2 separate regions of the Homo sapiens genome follow, and region 1 is linked to region 2. Evidence: fine-mapped QTL for protein levels in blood plasma. A gene starts in region 2. The other region holds a variant in brackets. All regions are shown on one strand. Distances are from middle to middle. Region 1 overlaps ZNF740 (zinc finger protein 740). Region 2 holds the start of ITGB7 (integrin subunit beta 7).

The links. PIP is the posterior inclusion probability: the model's chance that the variant is causal. Protein levels are from antibody-based Olink assays in UK Biobank. Linkage for the fine-mapping came from a reference panel and not from the study's own genotypes, which makes the PIPs less certain.
Region 1: its variant is fine-mapped to the plasma level of the ITGB7 protein (UK Biobank, PIP above 0.99). The variant lies in the coding sequence of ITGB7. If it changes the protein, the assay may bind it differently, which can mimic a change of level.

The regions. Positions count from the first base shown.
Region 1 is chr12:53,188,007-53,193,499 of GRCh38, reverse strand. ZNF740 (zinc finger protein 740) reads right to left here. Exons shown (of 7, transcript NM_001004304.4): 7 at 1-5,493. It overlaps ITGB7 (integrin subunit beta 7), which reads left to right. Exons shown (of 16, transcript NM_000889.3): 12 at 137-360; 13 at 590-809; 14 at 962-1,170; 15 at 1,481-1,641; 16 at 1,864-2,177. The coding sequence ends at 1,944. Among named protein-coding and RNA genes, the nearest start is that of CSAD, 9.8 kb to the right of the region's middle. RefSeq lists a silencer at 3,121-3,415. The variant G/A (reference allele first, on the strand shown) is at 748.
Region 2 is chr12:53,205,286-53,210,285 of GRCh38, reverse strand. It overlaps ITGB7 (integrin subunit beta 7), which reads left to right and starts at 3,035. Exons shown (of 16, transcript NM_000889.3): 1 at 3,035-3,084. RefSeq lists an enhancer at 4,906-4,995.

The sequences.
Region 1 (5,493 bases), 17 kb after region 2:
CTATACTTAACATCCTTTCAGCTGTTTGTCTGTCTCCAACTCTTTTGAGAACTTGGGTTTAGAGGTTCCTGGGAGAGACAAGTCAGGGGTGATCAAACCCTCTGACCTACTTCTCTCCTTTGCCTTCCCCTTCCAGCTGTGCCCCTGGCCGCCTAGGTCGGCTCTGTGAGTGCTCTGTGGCAGAGCTGTCCTCCCCAGACCTGGAATCTGGGTGCCGGGCTCCCAATGGCACAGGGCCCCTGTGCAGTGGAAAGGGTCACTGTCAATGTGGACGCTGCAGCTGCAGTGGACAGAGCTCTGGGCATCTGTGCGAGTGTGACGATGCCAGCTGTGAGCGACATGAGGGCATCCTCTGCGGAGGTACCTGGAGCCTTGGGGAGAAGGGCGGGGTCTGAGAGGCCTTCCCAAGGCACTTAGGCTCTGGGAATCTCCTGGCATGGAAGGCAAATATCAAAAGATTCCGGTGTATGGGTTAGAGGGTGTGGTTGGCATACTTCAAAAAGATTGGATGCGTGGGCTTGTCGTGCCACATGATGGCCAACTGTGTGTGTGGAGTATGGTTGTCACCCTCTGCATGGCTCTACCCCAGGCTTTGGTCGCTGCCAATGTGGAGTATGTCACTGTCATGCCAACCGCACGGGCAGAGCATGCGAATGCAGTGGGGACATGGACAGTTGCATCAGTCCCGAGGGAGGGCTCTGCAGTGGGCATGGACGCTGCAAATGCAACCGCTGCCAGTGCTTGGAC[G/A]GCTACTATGGTGCTCTATGCGACCAATGCCCAGGCTGCAAGACACCATGCGAGAGACACCGGTGAGGCCTCAGGTCTTGCATCTTGGGAGCAGGGGCACAGTGGGGCTTGTTGAGCTACTCCCATCTGCCTACTCTCCGTCCTGCTTGTAGTTGGGCAAGGGGCATTGGGTGACAACTGCCCAGCTGGTAACCTATTGGCATCTACTACACAGGGACTGTGCAGAGTGTGGGGCCTTCAGGACTGGCCCACTGGCCACCAACTGCAGTACAGCTTGTGCCCATACCAATGTGACCCTGGCCTTGGCCCCTATCTTGGATGATGGCTGGTGCAAAGAGCGGACCCTGGACAACCAGCTGTTCTTCTTCTTGGTGGAGGATGACGCCAGAGGCACGGTCGTGCTCAGAGTGAGACCCCAAGAAAGTAAGTGGGCAGGGATGCCACAAACCCTGGAAGTTTGATGGGCAGGGTCTCAACTCTGGGGATGCAGAGTGAAGATAATGGGAAACAGGCTGGGGGCTGAAGCAGAACTGTGAATCCAGGACAAAGGCAGAGGCAATTGAGCAAGTGGACGAGGCTAAGGCCCTGGGCGGTGAGGATAACCTTGGACCTCCCTGGGTTCCCTTTGCTTTCAGTGACAGACAGGGTTGGACAGGCTGGACACACTGTGAGCAACTGATGATCTGTCCCTATGCTCCAGCTCCCACAAGTGTGTCTGGTTTCTTGTTCACAGAGGGAGCAGACCACACGCAGGCCATTGTGCTGGGCTGCGTAGGGGGCATCGTGGCAGTGGGGCTGGGGCTGGTCCTGGCTTACCGGCTCTCGGTGGAAATCTATGACCGCCGGGAATACAGTCGCTTTGAGAAGGAGCAGCAACAACTCAACTGGAAGCAGGTGAGGAGACTTCCTGGTTAGGCCCCTTTTTAGCTGTTCCCCCACCACAAGACCAGCCCTGATTCCTCCCACTGGGTTCCCCCAGCCCCTGGCACATGTAACCAACCCCTCTGCTAACTTCCATCAGCTCCTAGGATTCGGCTCAAGGCTGGCCTCTTAGGTCTAGAAAGGGGACGAGGAATCCTGGGATTTTTGCTTATAATCTGCAACATCTTTCTCCAGGACAGTAATCCTCTCTACAAAAGTGCCATCACGACCACCATCAATCCTCGCTTTCAAGAGGCAGACAGTCCCACTCTCTGAAGGAGGGAGGGACACTTACCCAAGGCTCTTCTCCTTGGAGGACAGTGGGAACTGGAGGGTGAGAGGAAGGGTGGGTCTGTAAGACCTTGGTAGGGGACTAATTCACTGGCGAGGTGCGGCCACCACCCTACTTCATTTTCAGAGTGACACCCAAGAGGGCTGCTTCCCATGCCTGCAACCTTGCATCCATCTGGGCTACCCCACCCAAGTATACAATAAAGTCTTACCTCAGACCACAGCTGTCACTTTGCTTTACCTCATCAAGGCCAAAGCAGACTGTTTATAGCCTGGGCCTCGGGAAAGCTCTTGTCCATCCTCCTCTTGCCACCTGAGGGCAGGGAGAGGTGCCCAAGCGCGAATGTGCAGGAAACTCCCGGGGTGCACCCTGGGACCCAGGAAGCCAGGTCTGGAAAGGGCCTATGAATTCTCAAGTGCTGCGGATGCAGGGGGGTCCCAGGTCAGAGACACTGCATCTGTTGGTGTCTAGCCTCCTTCCGTCCTGCTGCGTGTGCTTTTTCGTCTTGCTCAGAACTGATGCCCTGTTTTTGCTCCTACTTGCTTGTTCCTCTGTGGAGAAGGGGTTTTAAAATGGCTTATAGGGTGCTGGAAGTTGTGGGGTGATTATGTAGGGAGAAAAAAGGAAAACAACTAAAACCAGTATGAAAAAGCTTCCCCAAAGAGGAGATAGTATGTAGAAAAGCCCCATTTTCCTTTTATTTAAATATCCTAAATATATCACGAAGGAACATACACTGCACTTTAATGGTAAAAAGATACAAGTTTATAACATCTTATAAAAACTACCATTTAAAAGTGATCTTGTCCATTTGATATTCCCCTCCCCCATAGCAAAATATTATTTAAAAAAAAAAAAAACAAAAAACAGGGTGGAGAGGAGGATAGGAAGGGGACAGTTGATAAAACCCCAGGGCCACAGCAGAGGCAAAGGGCATCTGGGGAGAGGGTTCGAAGCTGTGGCGGACTCCACTAATGTAACCCTCCAATGTCAAGCCATGGGCGTGATCAGTAGCTAAGTGATGACAAGGCTGTTGGGGGTGGACGGAAAAGACTTGGGGCAAAGCAGACTGTTTATAGCCTGAGCTGGTAGGGCCTGGTGCAGCAGCCTACCCGGAACTGGCACTACTCTTTCCCAGGTTCCCTGACTCTCTATCCTGGTCTCTGAGAGCGTGCCCTACTTCCGTTTCCCCCACTCCAAACACACCTGAGGCATCTTCCAGTGCTAGGCCCCATGCTGGCCAGCAGGGGTCGGGCATTGGGCCCAGGAGCCTCTGCAGCGGTGTGAGTCAGTGGCTTCCCTGGGGTATCCGTGGGGCTCCCGGGCCCTCTGGATGCCAAATCACTCCTTTCACTGCTTTGCGCCTCTCTTCTCACACATGCACTGCCCCAGACATCAGCGCGGGAACTGAACCAACCACCTGCTCCTGAGTTTCCCTCACTGGGTCCTTGGCAGGGGTGGCTCTGCTATGGCTGTTCGCACATACTCTCTGAAGTTCCCTCCCTCCCACCCACCCAGGCAGGAAACCAAGGTCTGTGGGAACCCAGGGCACCTTCTGACCCAGTACACACATTAGTACACATAGGGGCACAGGTCACTCATGTGAGACTTACATGAATCTCTCCACATACACCCCTATCCCAAAGAGACTAGCTGTAAGTGGCAGGGACAGAGGGCTCTCATTTTCAAAAGCATTTTTGGGAGGATAGTTTTCTAAATATTTTAAAATGGTTTACAGGGTACTGGAAGATGTGGGGTGAATCATCCCAGAAGTGAAGGACAGGAAAAGCCCAGATCCAGCAGAACCCTTGAACAGGAAGGGGGCTGGCTCACATGCAGAAAGATGCCCCTGCTTGCAGGGACCACAGGGCTGATCCAAGGACTGAGGTCTAAGTTCTGGACCACATCAAATGGGAGTGTCAGCATAGAGCTGTAAGAGTACATGGCAGCAAACACTCCTCAGCGTCTCCCCAAAAGGATCTCAGATGCTGTCAGGGAAAATCGAATGGGTGCCATGCCTGCTTTCTTTTTCCCTGAAATACTCATACCACAGAGGTATGGACAACCCCCTCCCCAACCCCACCCCTCCAGAATAGGTAACAGCCAGGAATCATTGCTGGTATCCATTCTTTACATTTTCTGGGAAATGAAATCATACTTTCAGGAGTTTCCCATCTCAGACCCTACTGACAGCTTGGCACTCAGGTTCAGCCAGTCTCCATGATTACTAAGACAGTTCCCGTACCCGCCACAGGTCAGGTCAGGTTACAGTGGGGGTCAACCAAACCCCAAAACTTCCCATAAGGATTCTTTCTTTAGCAGAAAGAAAAGGTTTATTTCACCTTAGAAAATTCATGTTCACAAGCCCTGGCTTGGGTTAGAAACATCCTAACCACCAGGCTGTTGAATTCATCTTAAAAAAAAAAACCCTCCAAAACAAAAGCCCTTCTGTTCCCCAAATTGTGTTCTTCAGCTCCTGCTGAGACCTCAAGCACCCTTCATGTTTGGGCAAGAGGAGGCTATTTTCCACTCATCCTCCCTGAAGGTGAGGGCCAGAGAAGGGTTTGGCTCAATAATATGCCATCTCCTGCAAGCATACAAATACATGCATTCATATCTCACACACACTCTCTCTCACACACACACACACACCCGATTACTTTTTTGGGAGTGGACAAGGTGGTGGTATTGGAGCAGAGAGGAGCAAAGAATATGGTTAAGAATGGAACCTACATTAGGTTTCTTCTTTAGTCTTTTCTCTGCAGCACCCCCACCCCCATCCCCCACACTCTGTTGGGTAGGGATGGCCATCAGGAAGCAAGCCGAGATCTTGTTTTTTGGGACCAAAGGACAGACCCCTCCCTACCTCCTCTACCTGAATACAGTGATAGGACTTGGGGAGGGAGAACAGCTCCTACTGCTCAACAGGCATGTCAGAAGACCCCAGATTCCTTTGTTTCTTGAGCAGCTGTTAGCCAACTTGGGACCAGTCTTGGGTTGTTCCTAAGAGGGCACAAGGAGAGAGAACCCACTTTGACTTCCATGACTCCTTGCTCAACACATCTGTCTCACTTTAGGAGTCAATGGCAGCGAGGTAGCCACATACCATCTCCAAGACCGACTCCCCAAAAAAAGAAGAAAAGGGCTTCATGGGCCACTCTCACCCAAGTTTCCTCCTAAAGGCATTTGAGCTGATGCCATCAGGTGCCAATGTGACATGGGCCATGACAACACCCACTGGCACAACTCTTCCTTTTCCCTTGAGGAAGGAAGAGGTGCCATCCACTTTTTGGATCCAGCCCTTGTCTGCTCCACCCCGTTTTTCCTTTTGTCCCTACAGTGTATAAGGAAGCCAAAGTAAGCTCAGCTGCCATTCCTGACCTTATTCTTCCTCAAAAAGGAGGCGAAGTGCAGGATTGTGAAACACTGAGGAGCTACTGCAACTAAAAACCCAATTTTTGGGGAGAGCTGGACCAGCTATAGTCCCTACTTTGGACCAGGACTCTTATGCCTCTGGATTACCTGTATCCACA
Region 2 (5,000 bases):
AACCTCCACTTCCCAGGTTCAAGCAATTCTCTTGCCTCAGCCTCCCGAGTAGCTGCAATTACAGGGGTGCACCACCACGCCCAGCTAATTTTTTTTATTTTTAGTAGAGACAGGTTTCGCCATGTTGGCCAGGCTGGTCTCGAACTCCTGACCTCAGGTGATCCGCCTGCCTTGGACTCCCAAAGTGCTGGGATTACAGGCGTGAGCCACTGCGTCTAGCTTGGTGTGGGTTCTTATGTTGGATCCTGTGGATCTCTGGGAGGGCATGAATGGACTTCAGAGGTCTGTAAGCCTGTCTCCACCTCCAGTTATGCATATGTGCATATCTGCTTTTCTCTGGGGAAGGAGTCCATTGAAGTTTTATTTATCTTTTTGTTTTTCATTTTTTTTCTTGAGACGGAATTTCACTCCTGTTGCCCAGTCTGGAGTGCAGTGGTGTGATCTTGGCTCACTGCAACTTCTGCCTCCCGGGTTCAAGCGATTCTCCTGCCTCAGCCTCCCAAGTAGCTGGGATTACAGGGGCGCACCACCATGCTCAGCTAATTTTTGTATTTTTAGTAGAGATGGGGTTTCACCATGTTGGCTAGGCTGGTCTCGAACTCCTGACCTCAAGTGATCCACCTACTTCAGCCTCCCAAAGTGTTGAGATTACAGGCGTGAGCCACCATGCCTGCCCTGAAGTTTCATTTAGTTCTCATGAGGGCTCCTGGCCCCAGAAGAGAAGAAGCCCGCATCTAAGCTACAGTGTTACTGTTTTACACCAGCCCCTCACCCAGGGAGCCCTCTGGCCTTCTGTCCCCAACCACCCTGCTATCACCTTATACCTTACTCCCCCCACCCTCTCTGTTCCCACTCTTCACCCCATGACCTCCACTCACTGCCACCTGCACTGTTACCTTCTTTCCGAATATCTGTCCTTGCTCCCACACGCCTTCCCTCTGCAACACGCCTTTGCAGTGCCTTTGGCCTCTACTGCTGCACCCTGTACTCTTCCCTTCGCCCTCTGTGACTCCCCTCAAGCCCCTCCTCCGTGTCCTACCTTCCCTGGGACAGTGCCTTGCCTACCTTGTTCCTGGCTCTCTTCATTGGTGACCTGTGGTTATGACAAAAAAGTTGAGGATGTGGGAGTAGGGGAGAGAAGAGTGGAGGGCGGAAAGCAGAAGAAGAAAGTGAAAGAAGCTCTAGAGGAAACCACAGGGCCTGTGGGGAAGGAGGGTCATTGCCGTGGTAACCCCTGGTTGTGGGGGAAGGGTATAGGTCCTGGCTATCCCATAGCCTGAGGCCAGCCAAGCCCACCCAGAGAAAGAGCCCCTCCTCTCCAATTGTCCCCTCCTAGCAGCTACACCTCTGCAATCCATCTGACATTTATTGAGCACCTACTATAAGATGGGCACTTGGCTAGGTGTGGTGGCTCCAGCAGGGAAGCCTTGTAGAGCCAGTCCCTGCCTACAAGGAGTGCTCCTTCTGGTAGGGGAGATCGACCTGTGAACACAGACCTCATGTCTAGTTCCCTCTCAAAGCTCTTAGTGATCTGTATGGGCCAGGAGCAAATCCCATTAATATTTTCCTGCTCTCCCTACGGGCTTCATCCTTGCCTTGGCTTCAGCTGTTGTTCCTGCACTCTCTGCTTCTCCCAGTTCACCTCCTCCACCCCTTTCCCAGGATCCACTACTGTGTTGGCTCCTGGTTCCCCAATCACATGCTCTGAGCCTGGCCCTATGCCTCTCTCTTCCAAGTTTCCAGTTGTGTGGACCTTGAATTTCTCAAAGCCTCTTCACTTCTCACCTCTGCTACTTCTCATCCCTACTAATTCTCTTATCAAGCCCTTACTTAGTATGTGCCAGGTAGTCTTGTAGGCAATTGATATGAATTATCTCTTTTAATTCTCACGACAATCCTGTGAGTCTTGCTGGACAGATGAGAAAACAGCTGCAGGCAGGTTTAAGTAACTCAGCTAAGCTCCTTACTACTAGTAAGTAGTAGAGCCAGGATTTGAACTCTAGCAACTTGGCTCCAGAGCCTATGTAGTCAAGCACACTTATATAATGTATCCTGGGTTTTCAAAATGAACAAGTCTGTAATTTCTGGCCTCTCTACAGTACTTACTGCCCCTATTCCCTCCTATCATGTTCCTTCCTATATAAGTAAATGGAGAGATCATGAATTTTGGAGGCAGGCAGACCTGGATTTAAATCCCAGACCAGCCGAGTGTGCCTGTAATCCCAGCTACTCAGGAGGCCAAAGTGGGAGGATTGCTTGAGTCCAGGAGTTACAGACCAGCCTGGGCAACACAGCAAGACCCTGTCTCAAAAATAAAAAACAGGCTGGGCATGGTGGCCCACACCTGTAATCCCAGCACTTTGGGAGGCCGAGGTGGGCAGATCAATTGAGGTCAAGAGTTTGAGACCAGCCTGGCCAACATGGTGAAACCCCGTCTCTATTAAGAATATAAAACGTTGCTGGGCATGGTAGTGCACCCCTGTAATCCCAGCTATTCGGGAGGCTGAGGCAGGAGAATCGCTTGAACCTGGGAGGCGGAGTTTGCAGTGAGCTGAGATTGTGCCATGGGACAGTGAGCTGAGATTGTGCCTGGGAAACAGAGCAAGACCCTGTCTCAAAAGTTAAATTAAATTAAAATAAAAAAAATAAAATAATAAAAATTTAAAATAAAAATCTTTTTTCTTTTTTTTTTTTAAATCCTAGACTAGCTACTTACTAGCTGTGGGACCTTGGGCAAAATTCTTTATTTCCTGCTTCCAAGCCTCAATCTCTGCATCTGTAAAATTGGGGCTTGGGGGAATATTAACCCCTATCTTATGAGATTGTTGTGAGGGTTAATTGTAATATGTTACGTTCAACACATGACAGGGGTTCAATAAATGGGCTTCTTTCTTCCAGATCTCTGTATTGTCCACTCCCTTGGCTCAGCCCCACCCCTATCTGCACCACCTTCTAGATCAGTCACCCCCACCAACCCCAAATCTTCCCCACCCTGGGGAGTGTCACTTCCTCCTCTGCCGTCTCCCAGATCAGTACACAAAGGCTGCTGCTGCCGCCAGAGGAAGGACTGCTCTGCACGCACCTGTGAGTACCAGGGCACCAGCCCTTCTGCCTCCTCTCCTTACAAGCTCTGGCCCACCTGGTCCCAACCTCTTGGGAAGAGGGCTCTGACCTGGATACCGAGGGTCCTGTCCAGACTTGAGAAAGGCTCTGAACTCCTTTCTGCATTCCTAAGATCCCCTGACCTGGTTCCCTCCTCCAGTTTCACAGTACCCCCACCTCCACCTCTCCAAAAGCCCAATCTCTCCTGCATCAGTTTCCCATGAGTGGGTCTGGAGGCAGGGATGTATATGAGTGCTGTCATCTGAGTGCCTGCCATGTGCCAAGGACTATACCGAAGTAGGGCAGGTATACCGATTATACTGAGGGAGGGTTCTTCCAACATCACCCCCAGCTGCTATCCCTAATGCTCTGCCTTCAGCTCAGACTTCTTCCTAATCGGCACCTTGGTCACAGACTCCACTGTCCTGGGACACTGAGGCCCAGCAGCTCAGTTCCGTCCCCTCCTTGTGACTCCCAGTGGGCAGCAGAGGGTTCTGCTTGATTTGGAAGGTAGGGATGGGTTTGGAAGAGGCTCTGTTTCTCAGCTGCTGAGGGGGGTCACAGGGTGTGTACTGGAGTCAGAATGGAGTCCAGAAAAATGGAAATAACCACTTGGTCCCAGAGAGAGAAGGGAAGACTGCAGAATACCCCTAAGGAAAGAGAAATGGGATTAGGCAGAGCCCACCAGGGCTAGTGGGGAGAGAACACAACTTTTGATGGAGATAGTGCCTGGGTTGGAGGGAGGAAAGGAGAAAGCACAGCAGAGGCCTGGCCCTGCCCTGTCCTGCCCTGCCCCTAGTTCACTGGGTGACCCTGGCCTCATGGAATTTAGGTTTCCATTTGTAAAAAGAGTGGGATGGAGTAGTAGATTCAGCCATTCTATAGTTAGGAACAGAGGGGAAAAGGAAGTAAAATAGCCCTATGAAGAAGTGGAGCAGAGAAAAGCAGCAGAGAGATGCAATAGAAGTTTTGAAATGAAAGGAGCCAGAGAGAGACAGAGAAGCAGACAGAGAAATAGGTGGCAGAACATGTATTCTCAAGGAGGGGAGAAGAGAGGATAATTGGAAAGAAAGGTAGGAAAGGGCTGTCCAGGAAGTCCCAGGGCCCCCTTTAAGGGGAGATGAGTGGGCCTAAGGTCTCTGAAAAACCTATGCGGCAGCCGGGGCTCCACTTGTGAGAGATGAGTCAAAACCCGGCTTTGGGTTGCAGCATCTCCAGCCTCCCTGACCACAGGCATGCAGAGCAAGCAGGGCTGAGGTTACGCTGAGGCTGAGCTGGGACTGGCCTCTCCCCGAGGGGTGGAGGCTCCGTTATATATGGCGCCTGAGGTCACAGGTGGTGGGGAGCAGGACCAGGACATTCAAGGACTCAACACCCCACCCCTTTCCCACACTCTGTGCAGAGTATCTGGACCTGACTCTGGGCCCAGGCTGAAGAAGATGCAAATGGTTTATGACAAGGAGTTAGTTGGCCTTTCTCATACATTGCTGATGGGAATGTGGACCAGTACAAGTCCTGAAGAGTTTATGTTGGCAATACCCACCTATATATATATATTTCTTAGCATGAGAATGTAGATGAAATACACACCAGTATTACAAATGATACCTATCTAGTTATCCTGCACGTCCTCTGCTAGGGATTTATCCTACAGATTCAGTTGCAGACGTGTGAAATGATAAATACATGACATTTGGCTGGGGGTGATGGCTCACGCCTGTAATCACGGCAATTTGGGAGGCCGAGGCAGGTGGGTCGCTTGAGCTCAGGAGTTCTAGACCAGCCTGGGCAACATGGGGAAGCCCCATCTCTGCAAAATAATACAAAAATAATTAGCCAGACATGGTAGCATGCGCCTGTAGTACCAGCTACTCGGGAGGCTGAGGTGGAAGGATCAA